Linked DNA regions of Homo sapiens. The protein of the gene in region 1 purifies or fractionates together with the protein of each later gene. This does not show direct contact. Each region holds a gene or a part of one and is shown in the gene's direction. Other genes may lie near its edges.

Region 1 (4,723 bases):
CCGGATAGTAGGAGAGGTGTGAAGGAGGTAGAGCCCGGATGGAAAGTGGAGGGGATTGATGAGGGAAGACAGGTGACCTGCACCAAAGCAGTGGAGGTGGGAGAGGGAAAGCCAGTCAGGGAGCCCGGCCTCAGCCTGCCTGCAGGGCAGGCGTCTCCAGAACGTGAGCTACCGGAGGAAAGATTTGAGATAGGTTTGGGATCTTTAATGCCAAATTGAAAAGTTGCCACCTAGACCCTCAGAAGTCATGGAGAGTTTGGGGCCAGAGCAGCTTGCAGGGTGCTTTTTGATTATGTTACAGGCTTCAGCAGTCATCTGAGTCAGCTACTTTTATTTTATTTATTTTTTTATTTGAGACAGTGTCTTGCTCTCTTGCCCAGGCTGGAGTGCAGTGGCACAATCTTGGCTCACTGCAACCTCTGCATCCTGGGCTCAAATGATCCCCCTGCCTCACCCTCCCAAGTAGCTGGGACTATAGGCACATGCCACCACACCTGGCTAATTTTTGTATTTTTCGTAGAGGTGGGGTTTCACCATGTTACCCAGGTTGGTCTCTAACTCTCGGACTCAAGTGACCCACCCACCTCAGCCTCCCAAAGTGCTAGGATTACAGGCGTGAGCCATTGCACCTGGCCCTGATTCAGGTACTTTTGTAAAAGGTTTTTAAGTACTTAAAAAATATAATGATGTTAATAACCAAATTTTTTATGTTCTATTTACTTATTAGTATTTTATATTGAAGATCCACATTAGACTTTCTTCGAAGAAAGACCTGGTCACTGTTTTTTGTTTTGTTTTGTTTCATTTCGTGTTTAGTTTGTGGATCACTGGATTAGAAGGACATTAAACTGTGGAAGTAGCTCACATTCAATCTTTTCAATTACACACACATCTTAGGCAATGCCAAATAATTCTTTTAGTTTGTACCTGTTGGTTGAAAAAGTATATAAATGATTAAAACTTCTGTGAATTCAGTCATTTTTAAAATTGTATTAAAGCAACATATATAGATAAGTGAAAAATAATTATATATTTCACATAAATAATACCCAGTGCTAGATGGAAGTGTATAATGGATGTCAGGACTTCTTTAAATAAATGCAAGCCCCAACCCTCCCCCAGGAGTTCTCTGCCCTTAAGTCAGAAACCACCAGAATAGAGGCTGGGAACTGATGGGCGCAGGGGTTCAAGATTCTGACATGAAAGTAATTCTTGGCTGGGTGCGGTGGCTCACGCCTGTAATCCCAGCACTTTGGGATGCCAAGGTGGGTGAATCACGAGGTCAGGAGATCGAGACCATCCTGGCTAACACAGTGAAACCCTGTCTCTACTAAAAATACAAAAAATTAGCTGGCCGTGGTGGTGGGCGCCTGTAGTCCCAGCTACTCAGGAGGCTGAGGCAGGAGAATGGCGTGAACCTGGGAGGCGGAGCTTGCAGGGAGCGGAGATCGCACCAGTGCACTCCAGCCTGGGCGACAGAGTGAGACTCCGTCTCAAAAAAAAAAAAAAGAAAAGAAAAGAAAGAAAAAGAAATTCTTGAAGCTACGAAATACTTGGGAGTGGATGTGGGGAGAAAATCCTGCCACACAGGACCAGGGGACTTTCTAGATATGTAGGATCGGGAGGCATTGAAGAGCCAGCAGGGAAGTAGTTGAAGGATAAGGAGGAAAGCCAGGATCCTGCAGTGTCACCAAGCCAGGGAAGCCTCAGGGCGACATCGACAGGATCAAATGGTCAGAGCTCTTGGGCAAAAGGGACGAGCTGGGGTGTGGGGGCCAAAAAAAAGGCTGTTGGATTTAGGCACTGAAAAATAGCCATGCAAGGGTTCCGCCAGAGTGGTGAGGGGAGAAGCTAGAATGCAAGTGGTTATGTCATGGCAAGGAAGTAGATCCTGCAGCTTGGAGAAGTTCACAGTCAAGGAAAAGCTTCTAAAGAAGGCAAAGAGTACCAGAGAGCAGGAAGCTGCATGGCAGTTTTTTAACATGCACCCTGCAGTGAGAAACATGGAAAAGCCAGCTTAAAAAGCCATAGCAAGTTGGGCAGGAACTAAGTAATTAAAATCTGTTTTGCTTTCCACTCTTCCGAGGGTGGCAGTCCAGTTCCTTTCAGTGGACAATGGAAAATCCTCAGCTCTTGCAGGTCTTTCCAGAGTTAGGAATCAAAATTTGCAGAGATGACCTGGGGCTACTACAAGTACATATTTGGGGGCCAGGACTGCCTGTAATTTTAGAAAGCAGAGATAGAAAGTCCTTAGGGATGGTGGCTGCAGGATGCAGGAGTGACTTCGGGTGCCTTGTGGTCCACATCATGGCTCAACCTGTGTTCTCTTGCTCCAGCTCATCGAGGGCGCCTCTGCAGAGCAGAAACACAGCCTTGGCATCACCAGCATGGACTATTATTACTACCTGAGCCTCTCGGGCTCATACAAGGTTGATGACATTGACGACAGGCGGGAGTTTCAGGAAACTCTGGTAAGTGCTGGCGCAGGGCCAGGCAGGATCTGCTCTCCCAACTGGCCATTTCCTGTGGCCAAAAGGGCAGTGAAGGTTAATAAAGCAAAGAGCTGCATGAAATGTCCGCCTCTTTCTCTGTGAGCACTCTGTATGCTCATACATGTTTCAGTATCCTTAAACAGCCATGTGCCAGTTGCCTGAGGACCACTTAATGATTTGAGATGGGTAAAAAGAAATGAATTCATCATTATCACCCTGCAGGAGCTCTGATAAATAGGCAAAAATGATTCATACGTTGAGCATACCTGTTTGCTGATGGCCTACTCTATTCGTGAGCTATTTCCTTAGAAAAGCTAAGCAAACCGCACGTCTATGGACTGAATAGGTTTAGACATTTTGGAACGTCTTTAGTCTTTTCTCTTATTTCTTTTCTGGTTTTGAAGACTCTCTTCCCCTCTGTATTGTTTAGGGCAGAGGACCCTTTTTCTGTGCCATGCCCTTCACATTGCATGTATGTTATGGTCCAAGCTGTGAAACTAGGTAGATTATGGAGGGGTTCCATCCTGGGGGCAATAATGTAGAACTTTCTGGAGGTAGGCTGAACACCCACTTGGCCTCAAAGGCCTTCATTGCCACCCACTGCCCTTTGAGTCTGTTTCAAGCTGGGGACTATTCCTCAACCCAGATCCAGAACTGAGCAGTAGACTCTGAATGAGCAGCGTGGGTTCAGTACATTTGTGGTTGAAAGGGACAGAAAGTTCAAACAGACTGTGTCCTGGGTGCCAGGAAACAAAATGGTATCAACAGGTCACATGGCCTCAAAGCAGCTGCGGGGAAAAGTGCCAATAAGGAGTCTGCACACTGGTCCTAGAGTGTAGTTTTCTTAGGAGATGTTTCTCTTAAGATTTAGACATTTTAGCGGTATTTATTGCATTTAAGGGACCTCAGAAACTGGACTTTTAAATGATGCTTTTATTGGATTTCCTGGAGATTTTTCATTAAGATCCTTTTGCAAGTACAATATATTCTTATCCCTCCTGATGAAGGGAAAGATCTCGAGTCCACTTTGAGTAGGTGGAAAGGTCAGCAGCGACCTTCGAGGGGAAGCTGGCAACAAGAACACATCAAAGGATGAAGACAGGACTTGGAGACTTTGTGTACAACTACCACTCTTCCGAGTCTCTTTCCTCCTGGAGTATTCTCTTATTCCTGGAGGATGGCATGCTATGCTTAGAGACAGAAGTGCCCTTCCAGCATGACTTTGAGACGTGAGAAGAATGTGTGCATTGGGCAGTGACCATGTTGTACAAGAACGTCCTGCTGTCATCACAAGCTAAGCCACATGTGACTGCACAACCCAATCTTATGTTTTGGCTTTTTTTTTTTTTTTTCTTTGTAACTCGTCTGTACTTGTCACATCCTTATTTAGAGCAGCTGCTGTGCCTTGGCTTCTTCCTAAGGTGCTTTTAAAGCTGGTGACCAGCTTCTCTGGATAGTTTCTCTTTTCTCTTCCAGCACGCCATGAATGTGATTGGGATCTTTGCAGAAGAGCAAACGCTGGTGTTGCAGATAGTGGCGGGTATTCTCCACCTGGGAAACATCAGCTTCAAAGAAGTTGGCAACTACGCGGCTGTGGAGAGTGAAGAGTGTGCGTAGCCCTGGCATGTGGCCATTGAATGAGGGGTGGCTAGCTCTGATTAGAAGTAACCTAGCACTTTCCTTTGCTTAGATCTCAAATGGGAATATTGGGAAGAAGTGATAAATCTACATGTCCTCTGTGGCAAACAGAATGGCTTCACGAGAGACCAGACCTCTTCTATGCACCTGTCCCTGTCCTTACCCCCAGCCTTTCCAAGTCCCACACCATCGATTATTAATGGAATCGTTTCAATTTATCATTAACCTGGGGAAAGCTGGGAGGATTTCACACCTTGGTTTAAAGATAAAGTGATCTCTTTAATGGGGATTAGAGTAATGGCTTAATGCAAAAGATTTATTGTCTTTATCAAAACCTTTTCAGTAACTGGTCTTTAGGATCTAAATTCACTTACAGGTTTTAAAGAGCAAGCAATATAATATATGTAAATATGGGAAGCTCACAGCTTCACAGTTTGTTCCATGGATTGGATTACATTGGATTTCTGAACACAGAAAAAGATGGACATTGACTGTTGTGTTGACATTTCTGATGATCACTTTTAATGATCACATCTGTATACCTGGAGCCTCAACACCTAAATGGTCGTTTTTACTCTTTGAGAAAAAAAATC
Region 2 (4,723 bases), about 15 Mb from region 1:
CTGAAAAACTGAGGTTATTTAAACCCATCAATCCAGACGTCTCCTTTTGAATATAATTTACCTTGATATAAATTTAAAATAGAGATATTTTTAGCAGGTGGTTGTTTGAAGGAATTCTGAGTAATTATTGAGGAAGGTCATTGAGACAGGTCAGCTAGAGGTGGACACAATAATTGGATGGATGCTACCTGGCTGGAAGATGGAGCTTACTGGTGGATCAAAATCTCAGAGGGAAACTTTCCATTTTTAGCTTAAATGTTTATTAAAATTACATACCAGTGAAGTACTGTATGCTGCTATTAGTAAAAATGACTTGATCATCAGTGATTATTATTATCCCACCAAAGAGATTGGTTTAAGTGATCGCTTGTATGTGAAATATACTTGGTTTGAGTGGTACTTAGTTAATATTTCTATACTTTAAAACATGAACTTTTTCATTATAATCAAAGTTAGAATACAGCACATCTTAAAAAGAAGTGGTTTCCCATTGTATGTTTATTTGCTGAAACTTATCTTTGTATTTCCTTAGGTTTATGTGAGATTAAGACCATTTTTCAGGGAATTCCTGGAACGAATGTCTCAGATGTATGAGGTAAACATGCTTAAGCTAATTACATATGTATTTTTATTTTATTCAATATAGTACCCATATTTAGACCATGTATAATGATTACTTCTTTTCCCCTGAATTTATAGATCATTCTTTTTACTGCTTCTAAGAAGGTGTATGCAGACAAGTTACTGAACATACTAGACCCTAAAAAGCAACTGGTCAGGTAAATTTAATTAAGAAATAGTGGAAATGTCTGTCACACTGATCTATGAAATTACTGATTCTATTTCATTTTAATGGCCATTTTCAGTTGGCTGCATATGTGTTGAATGGTGAATATAAATGAATTTTTTAAGCCCCTAAACTCTTTAAAAGAGTTCCTAATGATGGAACTCCAGACAGACGTTCTTTAAAGGATACAAAGATCCAGTGCCTTTATTCACTGTGACATCTATATCCTCATTTCTTTTGGGATTGGGGAAGACGGGGGTTGGGGGGGTTGTGTGGAATTTTTCCACGTTGTGCATGATGTTTCATCTCCATATGTCTCTGAGGTAATGCATGTTAATTTACTTTTTAATGGCATAGAGAAATAAAAATTATTTTTTAACAGAAAGGATCAAATTAAGCCCTTGCTTTTTTTGAAAGCAAATTTATCTTCCATGGAAAGAAAATGTTACATGAATCTGATTGGAAATTACAGTGGGTTTAGTCACTCAGGTTATCCTGACTGGACTCAGTTCCTTGTGTGTGCCCTGAGCCAGCAGATGCAGTGTTTTCCTGGTTAGTGGGAGTGCCGTGGTGATTTTAAAATATTATGATAATTAGTTCCATTATTTTGTCAGCTGAAGTGAGATAGTAAGACTGCAGCAGTCTTGCTGTATCCTTTAAGAGGAGGGGTTAATCTTTGAATTTTTGATCAAAAGCTGAGAGAGATGACACAAACGGCTCATAAAAGCTTTAATAGGGCCAGGCGCGGTGGCTCACGCCTGTAATCCCAGCACTTTGGGAGGCTGAGTCTGGCTAATCACCTGAGGTCAGGAGTTCAAGGCCAGCCTCACCAATATGGAGAAACCCCGTGTCTCTACTAAAAATACAAAATTTAGGTGGGCGTGGTGGCGCATGCCTGTAATCCCAGCCACTCGGGAGGCTGAGGCAGGAGAATCGCTTGAACCCGGAAGGCGGAGGTTATGGTGAGCCGAGATCGTGCCGTTGCACTCCAGCCTGGGCAACAAGAGCAAAACTCCATCTCAAAAAAAAAGACTTTAATAGCTGGGTTGGTTGGTTGGTTCGTTCGTTCTTTCTCTCTCTCTTTCTTTCTTTCTTTCTCTCCTCTCTCTTTCTCTATTTCTTTCTTTCTTTTTCTTTTTTTTTTTTTTTGAGGCGGATTCTCACTCTGTTGCCCAGGCTGGAGTGCAGTTTGCAATCTCTGCCTTCTGAGTTTAAAAGATTCTCCTGCCTCAGCCTCTCGAGTAGCTGGGACTACAGGTGTGTGCCACCACACCTGGCTAATTTTTAGTGTTTTTAGTAGAGATGGGGTTTCATCATATTGGCCAGGCTGGTCTTGAACTCCTGACCTCAAGTGATCCACCCACTTTGGCCTCCCAAACTGCTGGCATTACAGGCGTGAGCCACTGCACCCAGCCCAGCTGAGTATAAATTTTCTTAAATACTTTTCCCATGTTGTCTTACTGGAAAATCCTAAAGTGTATTTTCTGCTGTTAACAGTACCTTTATTATTCAGTGGTTGCAAGTATACTGAAAGGCTTTTCCTAATGTTCATATTTTGGAAGGTTTTTTATTCTAAATAAAGCTGTGGTATCTTTTGTTTTTTAATCTAAAGGGTCAAAATAAGTAAGCTGCAGTCACACAAATGGGAAATGGTATTTTCTGTTCACAAAAGTATATTGTAATTTATGCTAATTTTACCTCACTTTACTAAAGTATACCCAGTGATTTTGTTTTGATGACTTCATTCATTATAATGATTTCTGTTCAGCATCTCCAGTATTCCAGGGAACAGTGGTGAGCAACACAAGCTCTTCCCTCTTGGAGCTTTCATTTACTAATGAGGAACAAATGATAGTCATGTTATGACAATGTGTTATAAATTAACAATCCTCTTTTAAACTAGATTTATAAAACCTACACACTTGAGGGTTTCCATTTGTTCTATCTAGATGTATTTTGAGAAATCTGAAACAAAAGCTTGTTTTTTTGTTTGTTTGTTTGTTGTTTGAAACAGTCTTGCTCTGTCACCCAGCCTGGAGTGCAGTGGTGCGATCTTGGCTCACTGTAAACTCGGCCTCCCAGATTCAAGCGATTCTCCTGCCTCAGCCTCCTGATAAGCTGGGATTGCAGGCGCGCATCACCACGCCCAGCTAATTTTTGTATTTTTAATAGAGACGGGGTTTCATCATGTTGGTCAGGCTGGTCTGGAACTCCTGACCTCGTGATCCGCCCACGTTGGCCTCCCAAAGTGCTGGGATTACAGGCGTGAGCCACCGCGCCTGGCCAACAAAAGCGTTTCAAAGAGTAGATTGTGAGTGCTATAGGGAATTGTCTGTGTTGGTGACAAGGTAGACTCTAAGAAATTCCTATGATCTAGGCTGAGTGCCGTGGCTCACGCCTGTAATCCCAGCACTTTGGGAGGCCAAGGCAGGCGGATCACGAGGTCAGGAGTTCAAGACCAGCCTGGCCAACATAATGAAACCTCGTCTCTACTAAAAATACAAAAAAAATTAGCTGGGCATGGTGGCAGGCGCCTGTAATCCCAGCTACTCGGGAGGCAGAGGTTGCAGTGAGCCGAGAGTCTGCCATTGCACTCCAGCCTGGGCGACAGTGGGAGACTCCGTCTCAAAAAAAAAAAAAGAAGAAAAAAAGAAATTCCTGTGATCTCTAAATCTCATGAGTTTCTAACACAAGTCTGTACTCACATGGATGATCTGCTCTTTGATGACTGGTACAAATAGTTTTTTTCTAAAAATGCAAATACATGCTATACACCCTCAGATTCCTGAATGAATAATTGGAAGGCTTTTACTGTAATTTAATTAAAATAACTGTAGTATCCACGTACAGATTCAGTTGTCTCCTGTCTCAATGAGTTTGCCACTATCGGTGAAGAGGCATCAACAGTGACTTGAATTTACATGCTGTATCTGCCTTTCCAGTTTCCTCATATCTAAATGTTTATAGAAATAAAACAGTGAATCTTATTTAGGCCCAACCAAGGCTTGAATTAATTTACTTAGTCTTTTTTGTTGTTGTTTTTTCAAAGTAGAACTGACTAAACTTTCCCGGGGCCAGATGATCGTTTGACTGTGATTATTAAAGTTATTCCTTATAATAAGGGGGAAAGAACTGCTTATACATTTTGTCTGTTCGTTAAATTCTTCCTTTTTGCCATACCAACTGGCACTGATAATTTTAAGGTTGAGTTTTTATTTGTGTGTGTATATGTAGATTTTTATTTATTCTTGGTAGCACTGTGACAGATTTTGTGGGTAGAAAATACCAGTTTCTTGAAATTGCATAATTTAAAATACAGGTCCAAATAGGTCCTAGATTTTGTAAAATTGTTAGTGTGATTAAGACACAAGGAAGACAACTTACCAATTATTAATATATACAGAATAGAGTACTTCAAGGTAGAAAAAAATTATATGAAACAATTATTAGTAATGTTCAGAGACTAGTATTTTGAGTATAAATTGAGATTATAATAATCACTTTAGTATTGTAAAACCTTTAATAGCTTTCTAAAATGATGTAGTATTTTTCTATGTGAGTGAAATATCAGTTTACATTTATAATACTTGATACTTAAATCTGAATTCCTCATTTCACTTAATCTTTTTTCAAATGATCATACACATATACTAAAAGAGGGGTGTTTAGGAAAAGTTGAAATGATGGAATGTTTTGGTCTTAGGACCTTTTCTCAAAAAAAATAAGGAAATCTAAAAAGCATTTTTTCAAATGCCAACACAAAAACATTCCTTCTTATATTTTCTATTCTGGCATGTACAGGGATAGGGAGGCTGTGTGGTCCACTGGTTAGAGCCAAGGACTGGGAGCCAGGAGGATCCTGGGTTCCAATGCGGGGCTAACCACTGACTTACTGTGTGACCTTGGGCAAGTCACTTGACCTCCTTGTTCCTCAGT
Region 3 (4,033 bases), on another chromosome or scaffold:
ATCTTTTGTGTAGGACAAGTATATCAAAGAAGCACATCTCAGAATTTTTACTTGTAATTATTTCATAATTCTTACTGCTGGAATATTTTTCTCAGTTTTCTCCTTTTTATTAAACCAAGTTAAAAGATAGTTGAAATTTGAAATTATACTATTTTCCTGTTGTTGTCTTCTCAGAGGAACATCTTGAGGGCCCAGTTTATCTGTAGTTCATACTAGATACTTGCTGATAGTGTCATTGTAGATGTCTTCACCTTATCTATCCAATGTTCTTGTAGAATATATCAGCTGCAGCTCTTTCCTCCCCAAATAACAAACATAAACCCTTAAACACCGAAATTTTGTTTCACCAAAACTTTTCAAAAAGATTATAATACTATTCTAGAACTTGAAATCATATTCTCTGCTCTTAAAAATATATAAAATACAATAATAAGGACCCAGGATTGTTAGGAAATCAGTTATGTGCCACTGGATTATATAGCAGTTTTTGTGCCTTCTCTCCTGTGTTGGCAGCAGCCATTGCAGTTTTCACAATGCCTTCCTCCTCTGCTCCTAATATACCAGAGACTAAAATAAAATAATGGAAATGTTACTAATACATTAACCAATATGCTTTGAATATGGTCTAGGGCCATGTAAATTTTCTTGCACTTAGGCTCTAAAACCTTGTTTTCTTTTTTGTGTGTTCCAGACTGTCTTCCATGTTAGGGAATCGTCTGGTTTAACATTAAATAAAATGTTAATCTGTTGTCTGTTGTCAAGATTTGAGTTGATAATTTGTTTACCTTTCTTCAGGGAAGAACTGCTAAAGCTTTGAGGTCATTACAATTTACGAATCCAGGAAGGCAAACTGAATTTGCTCCAGAAACTGGTAAAAGAGAAAAAAGAAGGCTTACAAAAAATGCAACCGCTGGTTCAGACAGGTAGGCTAAGTGTTACTGAAGACATGTTAACTTGCTGCTTCACATCTGCATTGTTCCCCTATTTTTCTCTTAAATTTTGAATTTTCTGGGTTCATATTTTAAATTGGATAATGTAGAATTAGTAAAAACCTATGAAGGCCTTTGTTTTTATTCATATAAAATTAAGGTATCCCTTTCAACTACAAAAATTTGTTTCTAAGAAGGTAGCAGTGAACTGAAGAAATAATTTTGGCATGAGAGTTAAAATAATTACAATTAAAGTAATTCACTTATTTGAAAAGCATTGTTATTATATATATACGGACATACCTCATTTTATTGGTGCTTCACTTTATTCTTTACAAGGTGCTATTTATTTTTACAAATTGAAAATTTGTGGCAACTCGGTGGTAAGCAAGTCTATTGGTGTCATTTTTCTAACAGCATGTACTCCCTATCTCTGTCGCATTTTGGTAATTATTGCAATATTTCCAGCTTTTTCATTACTGTATCTGTTATGATGATCTTTGATGTTACTATTATAATTATTTTGAGTCACTAGGAACCACACTAATGCAAGGTGGTGAACTTAGTCGATAAATGCTGTGGGTGTTCTTACTGCTCCACCTACTGGCTGTTCTCTAGACTCTCTCCCTCTCCTCAGGTGTCCCTATTCCCTGAGAAACAAATATATTGAAATTGGTCCAACTAATAACCCTGCAATGGTCTCTAAGTGTTCAAGTGAAAGGAAGAGTCAAGTTTCTCATTTTACAAAAAAAGCTAGAAATGATTAAGCTTGGGAGTAAGGCACGTCAAAAGCTGAGACAGGCCAAAAGCTGGGCCTCTTGTGCTAAACAGCCAAGTTGTGAATGCAAAGAAAAAGTTCAGGAAGGACATTAAAAGTACCATTCCATTGAACACAAATGATAAGAAAGCAAAACAGCCTTATTGCTAATATGGAGAAACTTTAAATGGTCTGGATAGAAGATCAAACCAGCTACAACACATTCCCTTAAGCAAAAGCCTAATCCAAAGCAAGGTTCTAACCCTCTTCAATTCTCTGAAGGATGAGAGAAGTGAGGAAGCTTCAGAAGAAAAGTTTGAAGCTAGCAGAGGTTGGTTTATGAGGGTAAGGAAAGAAGCCATCTCCATAACATAAAAGTGCAAGGTGAAGCAGCAAGTTATTAATGAAGGTAGCTACACTACCCAACAGATTTTCAATGTAGACCAGCCTTCTTTTTTTTTTTTTTTTTTTTTTTTTGAGATGGAGTCTTGCTCTGTCACCCAGCCTGAGGTGCAGTGGCGCAAACTCAGCTCACTACACCCGCCACCTGCTGCGTTCAAGCGATTCTTCTGCCTCAACCTCTTGGGTAGCTGGGACTACAGGCACGTGCCACCACAGCCAGCTAATTTTTTGTATTTTTAGTAGAGACGGGTTTCACCATGTTAGCCAGGATGGTCTCGATCTCCTGCCCTCGTGATCTGCCCACCTTGGCCTCCCAAAGTGCTGGGATTACAGGTGTGAGCCACCACGCCCAGCCAACAAACAGCCTTCTAATGGAAGAAGATGCCGTCTTTCATAGCTAGAGAGGGGAAGTCTATACCTGGCTTCAAATCTTCAAAGGACAGGCCGTTTCTCTTGGTAGGGACGAATGCAGCTGGTGACTTTTAAGTTGAAGCCAATTATTTACCTCTTCGAAATCCTAGGGTCCTAATGATGCTAAATGTACTCTACCTGTCCTGTATAAATGGGACAAAGCCTGAATGGCAGCATATCTGTTTACAGCATTGTTCATTGAATATTTTAAGCCCACTTGAGAGACCTCCTGCCTAGATAAAAGGATTCCTTTCAAAATATTGCTACTCATTGACAATGTACCTGATCACTCAGGAGCTCTGATAGAGATGTCCCAGGAGATAAATGTTTCATGCCTCCTAACACAACATTCATTCTGTAGCCCACGGATCAAGGAGTACTTTGACTTTCAAGTCTGTTATTTAAGAAATACGTTTTGTGAGGCCAGAGCTGCCATAGACAGTGAGTGATTCCTCTGATGGATTTGGGCAAAGTAAATTGAACACCTTCTGGAAAGGATTCACCATTCCAAGAGTTTGGAAGAAGATTCGAGTCCTCATGGATGACTTTGAGGGGTTCAGGACTTCAGTGGAGGAAGTAGTTGCAGACGTGGTGGAAATAGCAAGAGAACTAGAATTAGAAGCAGAGCCTGGAGATGTGACTGAGTTATTGCAATCTTGTGATAAAACTTGAATGGATAAGGAGTTTCTTCTTAGAGATGAGCAAAGAATGTGATTTATTAAGGTGGAATCTACTGGTGAGGATGCTGTTAACATTACTGAAATGACAAAGGACTTAGATTATATAAACTTAGTAGATAAAGCAGAGGCAGAATTTGAGAGGATGACTCCAATTTTGAACATTCTACTGTAGGTAAAATGCTATCAAACACCATCACATGCTACAGAGAAATCTTTTGTAAGAAGAGTCCACTGATGCAGCAAACTTCACTGTAGTCTTTAAGAAATTGCCACAGCTACCCTAGCCTTCAGCAACGACCTCCCTGATCAGTCAGCTGTCCTCACTGGGGCAAGATCCTCCACCAGCAAAAAAACTACAACTCATTGAAGTTTCAGATCATTGTTAGCATTTTTTAGCAATAGAGCATTTTTAAATTAAGGTACATACATTTTTTTCTTAGACATAAGGCTGTTGCACACTTAATAGGCTATAGTGTAAGCTTAACTTTTATATGCACTGGAAAAGCAAAAAAATATATATATATATATGTGTGTGTGTGTGTGTGTGTGTGACTCACTTTATTGGGGGTGGTCTGGAACCAAACCCACAATACCTCCGAAATGTGCCTGTAATTCATATATCTCCGTTCTATGGGTAGCAGCTAAAAGGTAATTACATTTTATGAGAATGCAAGGTTTTTATTTTTTACATGTCTGAAATAGAAATGCAGTTCTGTATAGTCAACATAATGAATGGGAGAACTAAATTGTTTAGAATATGACTCTAAAACAAATGTTAATATAATCATTCAGAATTTTTTTTCTAAGTTCAGTCAACATTTCTATATATGCCATGTATTCCATCTGTTAAAATT
Region 4 (3,790 bases), on another chromosome or scaffold:
CTGTAACCCCAGCACTTTGGGAGACTGAGGTTGGGTGGATCACCTGAGGTCAGGAGTTCGAGACCAGCCTGGCCAACATGGTGAAACCTCATCTCTACTAAAAAATACAAAAAGTAGCCGGATGTGGTGGCATGTGCCTGTAATCCCAGCTACTTGGGAGGCTGAGGCAGGAGAATCCCTTGAACCCAGGAAGCAGAGGTTGCAGTGAGCTGAGATTGTGGCCATTGCACTCCAGCCTGGGCGACACAGCAAGACTCCGTCTCAAAGTAAATAAGTGAATTCAACCCTGGCTAGGCACGGTGGCTCACGCCTGTAATCCCAGCACTTTGGGAGGCCAAGACGGGTGGATCACCTGAGGTCAGGAGTTCAAGACCAGCCTGGCCAACATGGTGAAACCCCATCTCTACTAAAAATACAAAAATTAGCCAGGCATGGTAGTGGGCACCTGTAATCCCAGCTACTCAGGAGGCTGAGGCAGGAAGAATTGCTTGAATCTGGGAGGTGAAAGTTGCAGTGAGCCAAGATCATGCCACTGCACTCCAGCCTAGGTGACAGAGCAAGACTGCATCTCAATAAATAAATAAGTAAATAAATAAATTCCCCCCAAATTCTACTCCATTGAATCACTAAAGTCTAAGATTAATCTCTCCTCAGTGCTGCTGCCTTGGGGACCTAAGGAGGCCTCCTCCTGGGGATCCTTTCCATTTTCCAACCCCTTTAGCCTTCAGCAAAACTTCTCACTTTGGGACAGCTGTTTCAAGGATGAGCATTTTTGCTTCTGGTTCAAGGAGTGATCTGGATCAGATCTTTCAGATCCATGAGAGCAAAGCAAAGGAGACTTGGAAGAGCTGTCCTGCTGAGACCATCTGGTCTGTGTGTCAGTGCCCAGCTTCTCCATGACTCTCCGGGGAGCCAGCTGCTGTCCTAACTGCGTCTACCCTCAATCCAGATAAAGCCTCTAAACTAAGTCCTTTGTGTCACCTCCTGCCCCAACTCCAATCACCCCACCTCATGGCCCAGTATGTACTAATCCTCAGGTCATCTCTGTTCAGGGGTCTTGCTTTCTGTGTCTGGCCACTTAGCCCTTGCGCTATTCCCTCCACCCCCCAGGAGCCAGTTGCAGTTTTAACTTTGCCCTGTTTCTACCCCTAGCCCAAATAAAGCCTGTGAACTACTAAACAGAGGTGACCTGAGGTGGCCAAGGGTTAGTGCCCACTCTGTCCCAGGGGGCTACTGTAGTTAAGGAAGATGCCACACACAAGAAGATGCTTGTGCACTCATGACCCCATCTCTCAGTCTTGTCTTTCCCAAACCATCTGTCAGCACTCCCCACTGCTGTGTGCACCCAGAAATGTGCACAGGTAAGCTGTCAGACAGGCACTCTGAGTAAGGGGAAGCTCAGAGTTGGGCACATCAAACCCAGCAGACCCAGAGCTTGGGGGCCTCACAGGAGAGCAAGTCAGATGGGAACATCAGTATATGATACCAGGTGGAGAATTCAGAATCAGGAAGGAGTAGCTGCTGCTGCTGTGAGAGTCAGGAAGGAAGAGATGACTTCTAGTGTTTGCCCACGTATGTTCTGATCCTGTTTTTCCAAGGCACTAGCATGGAAAGCACAGGAGTGTCCCTGTCCTCCAGGAGCCAGTTCACAGCATAGGAAGGGAGATGCATTGTTAAGCTTGGCGTCATGGGAAAGGTGGCATCAAACTGACCTGGAAAGATTATTGATACAGATGTGAGGAGGTGTGGGGCAAGATTCCAGGCAAAATAAATGAATGTTAGACGTTGCTGACTGGGCGCAGTGGCTCACACCTGTAATCCCAGCACTTTGGGAGGCCAAGGTGGGTGGATCACTTGAGCCCAGGAGTTCAAGACCAGCCTGGGCAACATAGTAAGACCCCATCTCTACAAAAAATAAAAAAATTAGCTGGGCATGGTGGCATGCACCTGTGGACCCAGCTACTCAGGAGGCTGAGACAGGGGGATTGCTTAAGCCTCAGGAGGCCAAGGCTATAGTGAGCTGTGATCTCAACACTGCACTCCAGCCTGGGTGACAGAGCAAGACCCTGTCTCAAAAAAAAAAAAAAAAAAAAAAAAAGAATGTTAAGCCTTACCGTGCTCAGAGTCAGTCAGGACTGCTTGAACAGGCCTTCCCAGCTGCCCACAGCAGGGAAGCTTGGCAGCTGAGGTCTTCGGTGGATTTCAAAGCCCTGCTAAAGATGGCATCCTCTGTGATGTTTTCCGCAACTGCTCCTCCAAATGGATAGGCACTGTCCTGGCTGTCACCTTATTATGGTCTCTTGATTTCCTCAGTAGACAGTGCCTCCAGGGCAGGGCAGTGTCTTAGGTCTCTCATACCTGGCACTCAAGTGTTCGCCTGATTTCCTGGCATCCCCGAGCAGTCACTTCACCTGATGAAGACACTGCACCCAGAGAAACTGGATGCCTAGCAAGTTAACATTAGGTTCTGGAGCTACAGGATATACCAAGTTAAGGTGTGGTGAGGGGAGTCCTGCTGCTGTAGGTGGTGATGAGGGAGGAGGTAGGTGGGGAGCAACTTCTTTTTCTGCTCAGCCCCCTACAGAAGCTAAGCAGCATGGACCCGGCCATGCTGGAGCGCCTCCTCAGCTTGGACCGTCTGCTTGCCTCCCAGGGGAGCCAGGGGGCCCCTCTGTTGAGTACCCCAAAGCGAGAGCGGATGGTGCTAATGAAGACAGTGGAAGAGAAGGACCTAGAGATTGAGGTACGTGTTTTAGGGATGTGGGAGCTGGATTCCTATTGGCCTTGAGAAGCAATCCTTGGATCTTCAGACAGGGAAGGACACTCAGGCTGGACTAGAGTCCAGTTTTCTCCCAATACCGGAAGTTCTCCAGCTTCTGCTTGAATGTCCTTAACATGGCTGAACTTTGACAGACAATTGAGACCAGATGTGAGGGTGAGAAGAAAAAGTTCAAAGTAAAAGCAACAAATGTTAAACATTACATTTCCTAAAGCCCAGCTCAATTAATTGAGGACTGTGCTTGAAAAGCCTTTCCCTTCAATATTTGCAGAGGCTTGTTCCACCTCTGGGTAGCCCCCTAATCACAGAAAGCCCTTAATTATGTTAGGCTCCACCTGTCTCCTGGTAACCTCCCACTGGTCCTAGCCCTGCCCTCTGGGGGCTCAGAGCCTTGCATACTCACCCTGGTAACCCACTCCCTTCAGGCTGCCCTGGAGTTGGGTCTGGATCACATCTCCCTGATCCTTTCCAACAGAGGCTTAAGACGAAGCAAAAAGAACTGGAGGCCAAGATGTTGGCCCAGAAGGCTGAGGAAAAGGAGAACCATTGTCCCACAATGCTCCGGCCCCTTTCACATCGCACAGTCACAGGGGCAAAGCCCCTGAAAAAGGCTGTGGTGATGCCCCTACAGCTAAGTAAGTTTGACTCCAGGGGCTGGGGGGCCAAGGCAGCTGAGATCCTATAAGGGAGGAAGTGTTAGGAGCAGCTGTCTCCATGTCATTCATATTCTCCCACCACATACCAGTCCCAGGGAGGGGTGAGGAGGCTCTGAGGCAGTGCTGGGGGTGCTCTGCCCTCGGGTGTTTAGGACAGTGGGATGGACAAACGAGTAGAGGATTGAAGATAATGCAAGACTGACTGAAATTCCTTTAAATGCGGGTATAAAAAAGGTCATGTGGAAACACAACAGGTTAACTCTGGATGGAGGGGAGCTGGGGAATCAGAAATGGAAGAATCGAAGGGCTACCAGGGAGGGTGAAAAGTACCCTTTGCCCTGACTCCAATTCTCGA
Region 5 (4,723 bases), on another chromosome or scaffold:
TTTGGTTTAAGAGAACTTCATGAGTCAAAGTAAGAAATTTCCGAAATTTAGAGAGTTGTATGATTTTAACAGCCTGTTGGAATTCATGTGGATTTGGGGTGAGGATTTGGGAGGATTGGTTGGACATGATTAAAGTTTTTCAGTATGTTTTTGGTAGCCACAAAAGTTCCTTTCTGTTTGTAAGGTATAGACGTTATTCCCCCAAATATCATAGCATAGGGAGGCCATTAAAAAAAAAAAACTAACTTTTTATTTTAGAATAGCTTTAGATTTACAATAAAGTTGTAAAGATAGTACAGAGAGTTCCTATATTCCTGTACCCAGATTCCCTATTGTTTTTGTTTGTTTGTTTGTTTGTTTGTTTGTGAGACAGGGTCTTGCTCTGTTGCCCAGGCTGGACTGTAGCCTCGACCTCCCGTTCTCAGAGGATCTTCCCACCTCAGCCTCCTGAGGAGCTGGGCCACCAAGCTCAGCTAATCAAAAAAAAAAAAAAAAAAAAAAAAAAAAAAAATATATATATATATATGGTTGGGTTGGGTGTAGTGGTTCACACCTGTAATCCCAGCACTTTGGGAGGCCAAGGCAGGCAGATCCCTTGAGCCCAGGAATTCAAGACCAGCCTGGGCAACATGGTGAAACCCCATCTCTATTAGCAGTACCAAAATTAGCCGGGTGCAGTGGTGCACGCCTGTAATCCCGGCTACTTGGGAGGCTGAGGCACAAGAATCGCTTGAACCAGAAGGTGGAGGTTGCAATGAGTCGAGATCACGCCACTGCACTCCAGCCTGGGCGACAGAGTGAGACTCTGTCTCAAAAAAATATGTTTTGTAGAGACAAGGTCTCACTGTGTTGCCTAGGCTGCTCTTGCAATCCTGGGCTTAAGTGATCCTCCCACCTTGGCCTCCGAAGTGCTGGGATTACCAGCATGAGCCACCATGCCCAGCTGGATTCCCTAACATTAACATTTGATATTCCTGCAGTACATTTGTCACAACCAAAGAACCAACATTGGTACGTTACTATTAACTAAACCACACTTTATTCATATTTCACTAGCTTTTCCCTAATGTCCTTTTTCTGTTCCAAAATCCAAACTAGGATACCAATTACATTTTGTTGTCTTGTCTCCTTTGGCTCCTCTAGTCTATAGCAGTTTCTCAACTTTGTTTTTAATGACCTTGACAGTTTTGAGGAGCACTGGTCAGATATTTTGGTAGAATGTCCCTCAATTTTGATTCATTTGATGTTTTTCTCATTGTTGGATCGGGGTTGTGAAATTTCAAGAGGAAGGTCACAAGGGTCATTCTCATTACATCATATCAAAGGTACATGTTATTAACATGATGTCATTAATGACATTAATCTTGATCACCTGGCTGAGACACAGTCGTCAGGTCTCTCCATTGTAAAGTTACTCTTCCCCCTCTATACTCTCCTCATAAGAAGCAGAGTACTAAGTGCAGCCACATTCAAGAGGATGTTGGGAGTTAAACACCTTACATAGATACTCTCCACATCATATTCAACAGCATGTGGAGAATGTCTATGAAAGGTAGGGTATTTTTTATTCAGTAAATTGTAACCTGTACTCTGCTTTAAAAACATGCCTTGCCACTGTATTCTCTATGGTTTCTTTGTTTACTGAGTTTGTGGATGGTAAGTTCCTATACTAGAGAGATTTCCCAGGGCAGTGAGGATTTTAGGGCTGTATTTTTGACCTCCTCAATGTGTGTCTAATATGACACATCTGATGCAGTCCCCTGTCCAGAACCCATAGCTAAAATGAAGGGCAGGAAACACCAGCTAGCAAGAACTGGAGACCACAACTCTGGATATTAGGATTCCTGGGTAGGTAAGGATTTATTCTTTTAAACACCTCAACTTAAAAATATCTTGACCATTTTATAATGTAGTCCTTCTGAAATATATAATTTAACAGTTTTCTTAATGAGTGTGCTGGAATGATGTTTTCCTAATTTATAAGTTAGAACAGCTTTTTACTCTTCCACTGGAGGTCTAGACTGTAGCATTATTTGAGTTTTGATCTGTTTTTATTGTATTTTGAATCTTTTCTCTGTCAGCCATCATTTCTTGCTGCTATCAGTTTGCCTGCCTCCAGCAGTTTCCTTTCTGATTTGCTGTTTATAGCCTTCTGTTAATTTAGAATCCAGACAATGAAACTTGTTAGGAATGTATACAGAGGTAGTCAATACAGTATAAAATAGGATCTGAGAGCTGGAATTCTAAGCAAGTGTAAGCTCTAAGCATGTTAGTGAATGGCCTCCACCACATTTACGCAACTGCCCAGGAATTTTATTTTTCAAATTTTTTTTTGTTTTTGCTGGTTCTCACCTGTTGTGAAACGGTGAGACTGGCTTACTTGCATTATGGTTATTTCAGTAGGCCTGCTGCAGGCAAACTGCTTTATGTAGTGTGCCCTAAACACATTGTGGATGCCTACGAGTCCATGATTCAAATTTATAAAAATGTAGATATTGAGCCTTTTGAGTCAATATTTGATGTTTACAGAGAATTTAGTGATTGGTTTTTAAAATAGTATCCTAAATGCACAAAAATTAGCCTTCCCAGCAATGCATTTATATTTGTATATAAGATCCTAGTCACTGCTTTTGAAAATGACCAAAGCAGAGGCATAATACTTGCATTTAAAATTAAGCAAAGAAACAGCCAAAGCTAGAACATATAATATGCTTGAGAATTTATTTTAATCATGCTTTATTGGAAAAGTAGGAAAACCCTATACATAGAGTAAGAATTACAGATGGCTCTCACATTCTAACATGAATTTGGTATTGGATTGTGCATAGCTAGTTAATACACATCTATAGAGTCAGTACCAGAGGGAGATTAAAGTGCCAGGGTACTTCAGACCAGGACATAGATAAAACAAAGTGCAAACCAATTAGAACAGTTATATCATTAAGGATTAAAGATTTCTTAATGGTTAATTTAATTCATGTAGTAATTGTTTCCAGAGAGTCAACCCCTGCAGAGATACTAAGGAGAGTCTAAGGCTGTGTTGGTGGTGAAGCCACACCATGTAATCCAGACACAGACTCCTTTAGAATATTATTAATAATAGTTATCTGTAGGTGGTTTTAGGGGAAACAAAGTAGGATAATTAGAGGGATGATTTAAGGGAGCGGCTAGTAAGGGTATTGATAATGGTTCATTCAGGACCAGAACACATCCTTTACAGTACTTCCTGCAATTTGCAAAAGAAAGAAAAGCACCTCAGACTTTTAAGAATCCAGTGAGAGTAAATTCTCATATTTAATGGTGATTTTTGCTTTTTGGTGGATCCATATTGGGCCCAAATTGTTATAGACCAACTACAGCAGCTAATATGAGGTTTGGTAATCTAATATCCACTTTTCATCTTAATTCATTGACTTTCCTTATCGTGATAACTATAGTTTAAGAATGGAGATGTCAAATATAGGTCTCTTCCTTGTGAAGTAAACGACAGTTCATTTAACAGCAGTGGTGTGCTTGGTATCATTTCGTTGCATTTTGTTTGAACTCTAAAAATTATTCTTGAGAATAGCATTTTCATATTTCTGTCTTGATGATAGCAGTAATTCTGGATTTGCTTCTGTCTGTTTTTTGTTTTTAGTTTTTATGTTCCTGCTACAGATATTTTAAGTTTTACTTTTTATACTTACAAGCAGCAACATCAGATTTTTTTTCTATTGTAACACTTTTTCTGATTATAAAGAAATTTCTTTAAATAACATTCAGGAAATGTGTTTAAATAACACTTGGAAAATATAGGAATGGTATAAAAAAAGAAATTACCAACACCCCAATTATATAACCACTTGTTAATATTGTAATGTACTACTACTTTTATTCATATTTTTACATTATTGAAATACTATTGAACTGCACTTTTTAAAAATTAACATTATGAGTATTTTTCCATGGATGGTATGAATTCTTTGAAGACATATACATATGTTTTTTAATTGGCTAAAAAATGTTTTGTCATGTGAATGTGTTAAAATGTGTTATATCATATCTGTATTGTTGGCTGGTTCATTTCTAATTTCCGCTATTAAAAGCAATTCAGAGAACATCTTTTTGAGTTTTTTTTTTTCCTGTAATTCAGATACTTTTTTTGGATAATAGCGGTAGAAATTGACTTACTGGCTCAAACAATAGGACCATTTTTCTTCCTTTATTGACCTCCACTGAAAATAAATGTCATTGTACAACAAGTGCTAAATCATTCTTTTTCTTTTTTCCTCAGCTCACTACCCTGGGAAATCTTACACCTTCAAGCACTGTGTTTTTCTGCTGTGATATGCAGGAAAGGTTCAGACCAGCCATCAAGTATTTTGGGGATATTATTAGCGTGGGACAGAGATTGGTATGCTTGTTTACTTATTTGGTCATATTTGCTGAATCATCATATACACTCATATATACACATATATGTATATAGCTAATTGTTTTTGTGTTTGGTTATTTTTTTTCAGTTGCAAGGGGCCCGGATTTTAGGAATTCCTGTTATTGTAACAGAACAATACCCTAAAGGTCTTGGGAGCACGGTTCAAGAAATTGATTTAACAGGTGTAAAACTGGTACTTCCAAAGACCAAGTTTTCAATGGTATTACCAGAAGTAGAAGCGGCATTAGCAGAGATTCCCGGAGTCAGGAGTGTTGTATTATTTGGAGTAGAAGTAAGTACCTGTTACTA
Region 6 (4,723 bases), on another chromosome or scaffold:
GTCAGCTATTCCAGCATCTCCCATTCCCCATGCCCTTTCTTTTTTGAAAAGAGCCAGGTGCGGTGGCGCACGCCTGTAATCCCAGCACTTTGGGAGGCCGAGCCGGGCAGATCACGAGGTCAGGAGTTCGAGACCAGCCTGACCAACATGGTGAAACCCCGTCTCTCCTAAAAATACAAAAATTAGCTGGGCGTGGTGGCGCACGCCTGTAATCCCAGCTACTCAGGAGGCTGAGGCAGGAGAATCGCTTGAACCCAGGAGGCGGAGATTGCAGTGAGCCGAGGTCGCGCCACTGCACTCCAGCCTGGCTGGCAACAGAGCGAGACTCCATCTCAAAAAAAAAAAAAAAAAAAAAAAAACAAAAGAAAGAAAAGAAATGTATAGAAATTATAGCCTGACATCTGAACTTTTAAAACAAAATATAATTCCGTAAGTGTAATCTAAAGGAAATAAGAAATTAATTATAATTATAATTTCATAAATTATAAACATAATTCCATAAGTGTAGTCTAAAGGAAAATAAGAAATTAAGCTATAATTTTTGGAAAGGCATTTCATTACGTAAGTGCGTGGGCATGGCTGTATCACAGCAAATCACGATGAAGCAGCCTAAGGCTTCATGTTTGTTTGTTTTTTTTTGGAGACTGAGTCTCGCTCTATTGCCCAGGCCGGAGTGCAGTGGCGCGATCTCAGCTCACTGTAACCTCCACCTCCCAGGTTCAAGTGATTCTCCTGCTTCAGCCTCCCAAGTAGCTGGGATTACAGGCGCCTGCCACAATGCCCAGCTAATTTTTGAATTTTTAGTTAAGACAGGGTTTCACCGTATTGGCCAGGCTGGTCTCGAACTCCTGACCTCAGGTAATCCACCCACCTAGGCCTCCCAAAGTGATGGGATTACAGGCATGAGCCACTGCACCCGTCCGAGGCTTAATCTTATGTGTAGATTCACCAACAATCTTATATGTACATCAACAGCTGTAAATATCAACTGATACAGGTGTGCTAGATTGGCAACGCAAATACATGATTTTCTGAAATAGCAAATAACTTGATAAAGTTTCAAAAATCAAAATATAAACTTGCATTCCTGGAAAATTGTATTTCTTAAAACAGTGCAAAAATACATTGCATTGATAAGTAAAATGGAATTTGATCAGATAATTATAAGGATATTTTTTTCATCTACCTGACCGTGGCACATTGGAGAGGTAGGTGGGCTGTGCTGTGTGGCTGCGTCTCACACTGGACGTCTAATGTCCTTGACCCCCTCCGAGCTGAGTGCCAGCCACACTCTCCAACCACTGGAAATCCAGAGAAACCCAACTTGTTTCCTATATATGCCCTCAGAGGCAATTTTACCTCTGAGGAGAACAATCATCCTGAAGCCATCTTCAGCTGTGTTATTATTCATAGAAGGCTCTGTTTTTGTTTTTTTTTGTTTTTTTTGAGATGGAGTTTCGCTCTTGTTGCCCAGGCTGGAGTGCAATGGCGCAACCTCTGCTCACCGCAACCTCCACCTCCTGGGTTCAAGCAATTCTCCTGCTTCAGCCTCCCGAGTAGCTGGGATTACAGGCATGTGCCACTATGCCCGGCTAATTTTGTATTTTTAATAGAGACAGGGTTTCTCCATGTTGGTCAGGCTGGTCTCAAACCCCTGATCTCGTGATCTGCCCACCTCGGCCTCCCAAAATGCTGGGATTACAGGCGTGAGCCACCACGCCCCGTCCATAGAAGGCTCTTGAGAGCCAGAATGGGGGCACAGCTTCAGCACTGGCTCCATTTTATTATTTTAAACCTGGTCCTCGATACCTTCTCTTTTTTCCCACAGGTTGAAGTAGGATCTACAAATGTCCGAATAGGAAGCACGATTTTTGGAGAGCGGGATTACTCAAAGAAACCCACCCCGGACAAGTGCGCAGCAGACGTGAAGGCCCCGCTGGAGGTGGCACAGGAGCACTGAGCCAGGGAATACTGAGAGCACTAACTATGCACTAACCTAGATTTTCATTTCGATATTCCCTGTGTCCCAGCGCAGTCCTGCTCTCCTGTGACCTGTGGAGAGCACTAATGATCACGTGTGTTGATGGAAACCATCTGTGCTTAGTCTCTGACATAGGAAGCTTGCTTCAGGCAATGGCTTTGGATTGAGTTTGAGAAATTCAAACATTTCTGCAGAACAGATACCAAATCAATAGCTAGGAATCATGTTCAATATTGAATTCTGCCCAGGAGCATGAACTGATCCATGAATGCCTTTTCCAGGTTAAAATTTGGTCACTGATGCCTATAATCGTGGAAGTCAGAGGGATTCCCCTTTTTCATCTCATTTTAATAGGAAAATTCCTTATGGTTAACATCTCCCTACAAACTCCTACTACGTCGTCTAAATTGCTGCTCTGGAATAAGGTGATTTCTGCCCCCAGATTCTTCCCTAGCCGGTAGATACGTGAAGATATTCCCAACTGTGGAATGGCAGTGTAGGTAGCTTCAGGAAATGGCTCAGGTTAATTCTCAAAACACAAATTGTTGCTGGCCAGGCATGGTGACTCATGCCTGTAATCCCAGCAATTTGGGAGACAGAGGCGGAAGGATCACCTGAGCCTAGGAGTTCAAGACCAGCCTCAGCAACAGCAGGAGCCCCACCCCCCGTCTCTACAAAAAAATTTAAAAATTAACTGGGCATGGTGGCTGAGGTGGAAGAATGGAAGAATCACTTGAGCCCAGGAGTTTGAGGCTGCAGTGAGCTATGATTGCACCACTGTACTCCTGCCTTAAAAAAAAAAAAAAAATCCCAATAGTCCATGAAGGCTTTGATCTCTTGGGAAGTTCTTCATAGATGCTGTCACATTTCTTAAAGCAACCTTTTAATATGCAGATAATACCCCCCAACTTTTTTAGAGACAGCCTGTCTCTTAAAAAAAAAATTAATTTGGTAGTGAGAGCTTGTGTCACTGCCACTCTGTTTTATCCCTGAAATTAAAGGATAACATAAGGAGGACTTGGGCCTTTCTGACATCATCCTGAAGAGACAGGACTTTGCGTTTTTCCTCTGGGACCTACAGTGATGAGAATTTAATGATTATCTCCTCCACTATAATCCTCTTTAGGGTGATTTTTTAAATCAAAACCCAGTGAATCTCATTACTCCTAAGAAACGAAAGATTCCTTCAAAGCCTTTTCAGGCACATGGTTTCAACAAAGCCTGGCTTTGACATTCCTTGTCCTGAGGAGCACTTTCCAGGCATAGTTACAGCTTCCCCACTGTATTTACAAGCCAGAATTGTGCAACTCTTCTGGATCATTAATAAAGTAGCAAGATCCTCAAAAAACCCAAAAACACCATTCTCTAATAGTCATGACAAATGGCTTCAGTATGGCTTGTTTTTTATTTTCCAGATGGCTTTTTCTCTTATTTTTTGAAGCCCCAGTCTTTGATTTTACAGGTAACTTTCAAAACATCATGATGCTGCCAAATGTACTTTTGTAAACTTAAACATTATGATTCCTGTATTATTTCAGTGAGAGCTACAGTGTGATATTTCAGAGTCTATTAAATAAAAATGTGAGTTTGAATTACACCATCTGTGCCAATTACAAAGCAATTAAAAGATTTATTTTTTATGATCTGGTGTAGTGACTGAATATAACAGGTGGGGGCATTGGAACCGACGGGAAGCAGCTATGCTGGTGCCTTGGCATTGTGCCAGCCTGGCTTTGGAGGAGGGCTTCCCTGGGGTCACAGACGCAGCCAAAGCTACACCATGGGTGAGAGGGATTCTGAACTTCTAAGGGCAAGAAAAAGGACATTTCAAGAATTACAAAAATAGTTACCCCTCACTGCAAGAGACTTTTGAATTGCCTCTAGATGGCGACATTGGCTAACCTGAGGGACAAGCACTGGCTCTCCACTGTCAGTAGTTTACCTTATGAGGGACTCCTGGTTACTCAGTCTGGTGGAGGCCAGAGAGGACATGACGCTCTCAAGTGATAGTGTGACTTGCAGAGCCTCAGGGGTTCGATACCAGCTAGCCTGGGCAACACGGTGAAATCTTGTCTGTACCAAAAATACCCCGCCCAAAAATTAGCTGGGCATGGTGGCACATGCCTGTGGACCCAGCTACTCCAGAGGCTGAGGTGGGAGGATCGCTTGAGCCTGGGAGGAAGAAGTCACGGTGAGCTGAGATCGCACCACTGCACTGCAGCTTGGGTGACAAGGTGAGACCCCATCTCAAAACAAAACAAAAACAGCGAATAAGGAGGAAAGCCAGGGAAGGCTCAATCAGATCTAGATAAGGGAAGGACACCAAAGTGTGTCTAGGGTGTCCCCAGCAGGATGGGATATTTTGCAGAGAGAAAATTGAGCCAGGTTGTGAGTTTGTCTTTCGTTACGCATGATGGGTGGCAGGTTGGGTTTCTTCCAGATTTTCATGAAAGCCAGTTCCTGGAGTTTGGACGGCTTGCTCTCCTGGATTGGGCCCACCTGTGCAGCCTCACAGTCTCTGAAGGCGCTGGGCCCTTGTCTGCCCTGAAGCCAGCCTCAGAAGGCTTGAGACGCCACAAAACCTCCCAATAGTCCATCAAGACTTTGATCTCTTGGGGAGCTCCTCACAGATTCTATCACAGTTCTTAAAGCAACCTCTTAATACTCAAATGGTACCCCCCACCTTTTGTTTAACATTGATGGCATATGCAGCACTATTCTCTATATTCTCTCATTTCACCA
Region 7 (4,723 bases), on another chromosome or scaffold:
GCCATTAATGTGGATGATCCTGATGCAGCCAATTATAATGGTAAGAAAATTTGAAAAGTCTGAAGTCTTTCTAATTAATTCATAAGCACCACCATACTTAACCTATAATGACAGAATTGTAAGCCCTTACCTTCAAACTGTTAAAGGATGGAGGAACAAAGCACTGGACAAGCATTATTTCTATGACTGCACTTGTAATTAACTAAGTAAACTTTCTCCTTCATTCCAGGAAAGAAAAAATCTGGTAGGTTCTTACTGTTTTTTTGGTCCTTTCCTTCCCCACATACCAGCACTCAGTTGGTATGTTTATTTATTTTAAAACATTTAATTGAGATATTCACATATCAAAGAGTCACCATTGTAAAATGTACAATTCAGTGGTTTTTAGTATATTCACTAAGTTGTACAACCATCACCACTCTCTAATTGCAGAACATTTCATCAGCCCAGAGGAAATCCTGTATCCATGGGCAATCACTCCCTGTCCCCCTTCCCTCAGTCCCTGATGACTGCAGATCTACTTTGTGCCTATGGATTTGCCTATGCTGTTATTTCATGTAAATGGCATCATATAGGTGGCCTCTGTGTCTGGTTTATTTCACTTAGCGAAGTAAGTGTCTTCAGGATTCATCCGTATTGTAGTATGTATCAGCACTTCATTCCCTTTTTTTTTTTTTTTGGTGGTAAATTTTACATAACATAAAATTCACCATTTTAATTAAAGTGTGAAATTCAGTGGCATTTCATTCATTCACAAGGTTGTGCAGCCATCACCACTAGTTCAAGTCATTCCCTATTCCCTCCTCCTCTCCAGGCCCTGGCAGCCACTAATCTGCTTTTTGTCTTTATAGCTTTGCCTATTCTACCTATTCTAGGTATCTCATATACATGGACTGGTACAATATATGGATCTTTGTTGTTGCTGTTTCTGGTTTCTTTCACTTAGTATAATGTTTTCTAGGTTTATCCATATTGCATATTGTGGCATCTGTCAGTACTCCTTTTTATGGTTGAATATTATTCCATTGTGTGGATATACTACATTTTGTTTATCCATTCATCAGTTGATGGACATTTGGGTTGTTTTGGCTGTGTAATGCTGCCATGAACATTCCTGTACAAGTTTTTGTGTGGACTTATGTTTTTATTATTGGGTACATACATAGGAGTTGCCAAAGCTAGAACACTTTGAGCAAGAAAATAAAGTAGTATTGTAATATAACCTGGAACATAAAATAAATCTCCATGAGTCTATACTGACAAATAAATGATTGAATAAATAGACAAATGAGGAAGAATAGACAAATCTCAAAGCAGAAGAATTCCAAATAATTTATGCAGATACTCCATTCTCAAGGAGGTCCTTAATTGTGAGTTGTGCCTGGTGACTTCCTTCCAAAGAGTACAGTGTGGGTAAGGGAGAGGAGAGGATGACTTTAGAGCAGAGAAACTTGACAAACACTGCCTCAGCCAGGTGATGGAGGTCAATGTCAGCAGTGATAAGAGTCACCTTGAGAGCATGTTCCCTCAAAATGATGTGATGTATATTTGCATCTGTGTTAATTCATTGAAGAAGGACTGGAAGAATGCCAATCCTTTAATGTTTCGTTTCAATTTTGAAAGGTGAGAGTGCATTCACACCATCTGTTCACTACTTGGTAGTACGGCTCTGTTCTGTTGGTCCGTGTGTGCATTTCCAACGTGCTTCTTATGCAAGAGAACTTGGCATGCTGTGGCCACAATTAGTGAAGCCAAGCCCATCACTCTGTCAGCACTCATTTACTAAGGCTTTATTTTCCTGCAGTTCAGGTTATTAGAACCCTGAAAACTTTCTCGGGGTGGCTGGTCCCATGGCGCAAGTAGTATGCAGCTTTCCCTAATGTCAACCTAAGGCAGTGTCTATTGTCCATCCTATAGCTTGCCCCTGTGCATCTCTTCCATTTGCTGTCCCTGAGTTGTATTTATATAACGAAATTTAAACTTCAGTGTTTTCCTGAGTTCTGTGAACCATTTTAGCAAATTAGGGGACCTGGGGAGAGGATTGTAGAAACCCCTAATTTATAGCTGATAGTCAAAAGTACAGGAGGCATCTGAAGTGGGGCAGTCTTGTGAGACTGAGCCCCTAACCTTTGAGATCTGATGCTAACTCCAGGTAGATAGTATCAGAATCACAGTGAATTACTGAGCACTCAGTTGGTGTCTGAATAATTGGAGAATTAGTTTCTGTTATTGGAAAACATCAACATTTGCATGTTGGATTTCTGGATTTCCAAATTATTTCTATATCAGGTGACACATTTCATGTAAATTATAAGTTCTTTGAAATTTACTAGTGCTTAAACATTTCCCAGTGCATTCTGTAAAGTTTCCATACTTTTAGTGATATTATGATAATAGAATGCATGCTATTCTTTATGCAGATTATAAATTGGATTGAAGCGGCCGGGCGCGGTGGCTCACGCCTGTAATCCCAGCACTTTGGGAGGCCGAGGCAGGCGAATCATGAGGTCAGGAGATCGAGACCGTCCTAGCTAACACGAAACCCCATCTCTACTAAAAATACAAAAAAATTAGCCAGGCATGGTGGTGGGCACCTGTAGTCCCAGTTACTCAGGAGGCTGAGGCAGGAGAATGGCGTGAACCCGGGAGGCAGAGCTTGCAGTGAGCCGAGATTGCGCCACTGCACTCCAGCCTGGGAGACAGAGCGAGACTCCTTCTCAAAAAAAAAAAATAAATTGGAGTGAAGCAATGTTATCTTATACAAATATAAATAAGCTTTTGTTATTGTTGAATGTATTTCTCTTCCTCATAATACTTTTCCTAACTGACTTTTTAGGATGTGTATCTCTGTTTGCTTGCATTGAGCAGGAGTTTGTTATTTGAAGTGCAGTTTGATAACATTGAGGCTAGCCATTGTTGATGGCTATACAGAAACTTAAAATTTTTAAAGCAGTGCACTTTTCTGTCAGCCAGAACTAAAGTATTGTTATGTACAGTGCCTGTACTATCCAGCAAAGTCTAGTCACATTTAATACGTAACCCATCAATGGATATCAATCTAATCTATTTTTCTTATCTTTTAGTATGTAATAGTGTTGTGATCCTCTGACATAGCCTCTGCCTCTGGACCAGGGATAGTACCTCAAGCCTGTAATCCCAGTGCTTTGGGAAGCCAAGGCAGGAGGATTGCTTGAGCCCAGGAGTTTGAGACCAGCCTGGGCAACATGACGAGACCCCATTTCTACAAAAAATTTAAAAATTAGCTGGGCGTGTGCATGCTTATAGTCCCAGCTACTCAGGAGGCTGAGGTGAGAGGATCGCTGAACTGTGGAGGTCAAGGCTGCAGTGAGCCTTGTTCGGGCCACTGCATTCCAGCGTGGGTGACAGAGCGAGACCTTGTCTCTGAAAAAAAAAAAAAGATAACCTCTGTCTTTTTCAGTATCTTGTACACTTCTCATAGGAATTATCTACATTTGCCAAACTGGTTGTTTCATTATGTAGCCACCAGCTGTTTGCCCTTACCTAACAGAGATTACTATTGTACTGATTGTTCTCTGTACTTAGTGTCAGAGCTATTCAGAGATACTAGATGATTTTCTTTCAATGTATATGTGTATGGCTTCTCTTCTCAACAAGGGGCTTCGCTCCAATGTTATCTTGAACTTCCGTGATAAGTCATTCCACAGCTCTTTCAAAATAAGTACTTGGAATTTTTGTTGAGTGTATAATTATTTGTGCATCTTGAAATCTGCTTATTCTCTTCTTTCTTTTTAAAAAAATCATTCTCACTGTCATCTTATGCTTCTTCTCTTCTTAGATATCAATGATGTCAAACGGCTGAAACCTGGCTACTTAGAAGCTACTGTGGACTGGTTTAGAAGGTATAAGGTTCCTGATGGAAAACCAGAAAATGAGTTTGCGTTTAATGCAGAATTTAAAGATAAGGTAATATGTCATTCAGAACTGTAGCTTTAGGCTCATTTGTATTGAGACTCATAATTTAACCATATTGTTACCATCTAAAGATTCACAAAACAGAAGTCTGGAAACATAACACAGTCTTGGTGTTTATTTATTCACTTTAATATTCTCTTCCATTTTTAGAATAAGGAAATGATTCAGAAGAGACAAAGTATCAGGCTTTGGGGAAATGTTGATAATAGGAAAATAATACCTTTTTATCATTGTAATGCAAACCTCTTCAAATTATAGGACTTTGCCATTGATATTATTAAAAGCACTCATGACCATTGGAAAGCATTAGTGACTAAGAAAACGAATGGAAAAGGAATCAGTTGGTAAGTGTAAACACTTTGCATGTTTAACACACAAAGCAGACCAGCTTGCAGAAAAGGTTTTAATAATCATAAGACACTGTACTGTTACTTTCACTTAGAAAAGAGATACAAGGCTGGGTGCGGTGGCTCACACCTGTCATTCCAGCACTTTGGGAAGCCAAGGTGGATGGATTGCTTGAGCCCAGGAGTTGAAGACCAGCCTGGACAACATGGAAAAACCCTGTCTCTACAAAAAGTACAAAAATTAGCTGGGCATGGTGGTACATACCTGTAGTCCTAGCTACCTGGGAGGCTGAGTTGGGAGGATCACCTGAGCCTGGGGAGGTTGAAGCTGCAGTGAGCCGTGATCGTACCACTGTACTCCAGCCTGGGCGACAGAGCGAGACTCGGTCTCAAAAAAAAAAAAAAAAGAGTACGAGAAACAG

What was found.
Region 2: the proteins of MYO1E (region 1) and CTDSPL2 purify together in Homo sapiens (affinity purification with mass spectrometry; one large-scale study listed by BioGRID and IntAct). This does not show direct contact.
Region 3: the proteins of MYO1E (region 1) and ARL14EP purify together in Homo sapiens (co-immunoprecipitation; one study listed by IntAct). This does not show direct contact.
Region 4: the proteins of MYO1E (region 1) and KIF22 purify together in Homo sapiens (affinity purification with mass spectrometry; one large-scale study listed by BioGRID and IntAct). This does not show direct contact.
Region 5: the proteins of MYO1E (region 1) and ISOC1 fractionate together in Homo sapiens (co-fractionation; one large-scale study listed by BioGRID). This does not show direct contact.
Region 6: the proteins of MYO1E (region 1) and PLPBP fractionate together in Homo sapiens (co-fractionation; one large-scale study listed by BioGRID). This does not show direct contact.
Region 7: the proteins of MYO1E (region 1) and PPA1 fractionate together in Homo sapiens (co-fractionation; one large-scale study listed by BioGRID). This does not show direct contact.

The regions. Positions count from the first base shown.
Region 1 is NC_000015.10:59,222,437-59,227,159, reverse strand, and holds part of MYO1E (unconventional myosin-Ie), read left to right. Parts: intron 1-2,336; coding exon 2,337-2,471; intron 2,472-3,968; coding exon 3,969-4,101; intron 4,102-4,723. UniProt on the Homo sapiens protein: Actin-based motor molecule with ATPase activity. Unconventional myosins serve in intracellular movements. Their highly divergent tails bind to membranous compartments, which are then moved relative to actin filaments.
Region 2 is NC_000015.10:44,514,066-44,518,788, forward strand, and holds part of CTDSPL2 (CTD small phosphatase-like protein 2), read left to right. Parts: intron 1-532; coding exon 533-595; intron 596-699; coding exon 700-779; intron 780-4,723. UniProt on the Homo sapiens protein: Probable phosphatase.
Region 3 is NC_000011.10:30,332,071-30,336,103, forward strand, and holds part of ARL14EP (ARL14 effector protein), read left to right. Parts: intron 1-795; coding exon 796-923; intron 924-4,033.
Region 4 is NC_000016.10:29,800,195-29,803,984, forward strand, and holds part of KIF22 (kinesin-like protein KIF22), read left to right. Parts: coding exon of another isoform or gene 1-28; exon of another isoform or gene 29-608; intron 609-2,574; coding exon 2,575-2,743; intron 2,744-3,204; coding exon of another isoform or gene 3,205-3,254; coding exon 3,255-3,414; intron 3,415-3,790. UniProt on the Homo sapiens protein: Kinesin family member that is involved in spindle formation and the movements of chromosomes during mitosis and meiosis. Binds to microtubules and to DNA. Plays a role in congression of laterally attached chromosomes in NDC80-depleted cells.
Region 5 is NC_000005.10:129,100,683-129,105,405, forward strand, and holds part of ISOC1 (isochorismatase domain-containing protein 1), read left to right. Parts: intron 1-4,273; coding exon 4,274-4,393; intron 4,394-4,502; coding exon 4,503-4,706; intron 4,707-4,723.
Region 6 is NC_000008.11:37,776,145-37,780,867, forward strand, and holds the end of PLPBP (pyridoxal phosphate homeostasis protein), read left to right. Parts: intron 1-1,828; coding exon 1,829-1,960; 3' UTR 1,961-3,624; downstream 3,625-4,723. UniProt on the Homo sapiens protein: Pyridoxal 5'-phosphate (PLP)-binding protein, which may be involved in intracellular homeostatic regulation of pyridoxal 5'-phosphate (PLP), the active form of vitamin B6.
Region 7 is NC_000010.11:70,208,780-70,213,502, reverse strand, and holds part of PPA1 (inorganic pyrophosphatase), read left to right. Parts: coding exon 1-40; intron 41-3,817; coding exon 3,818-3,945; intron 3,946-4,212; coding exon 4,213-4,298; intron 4,299-4,723.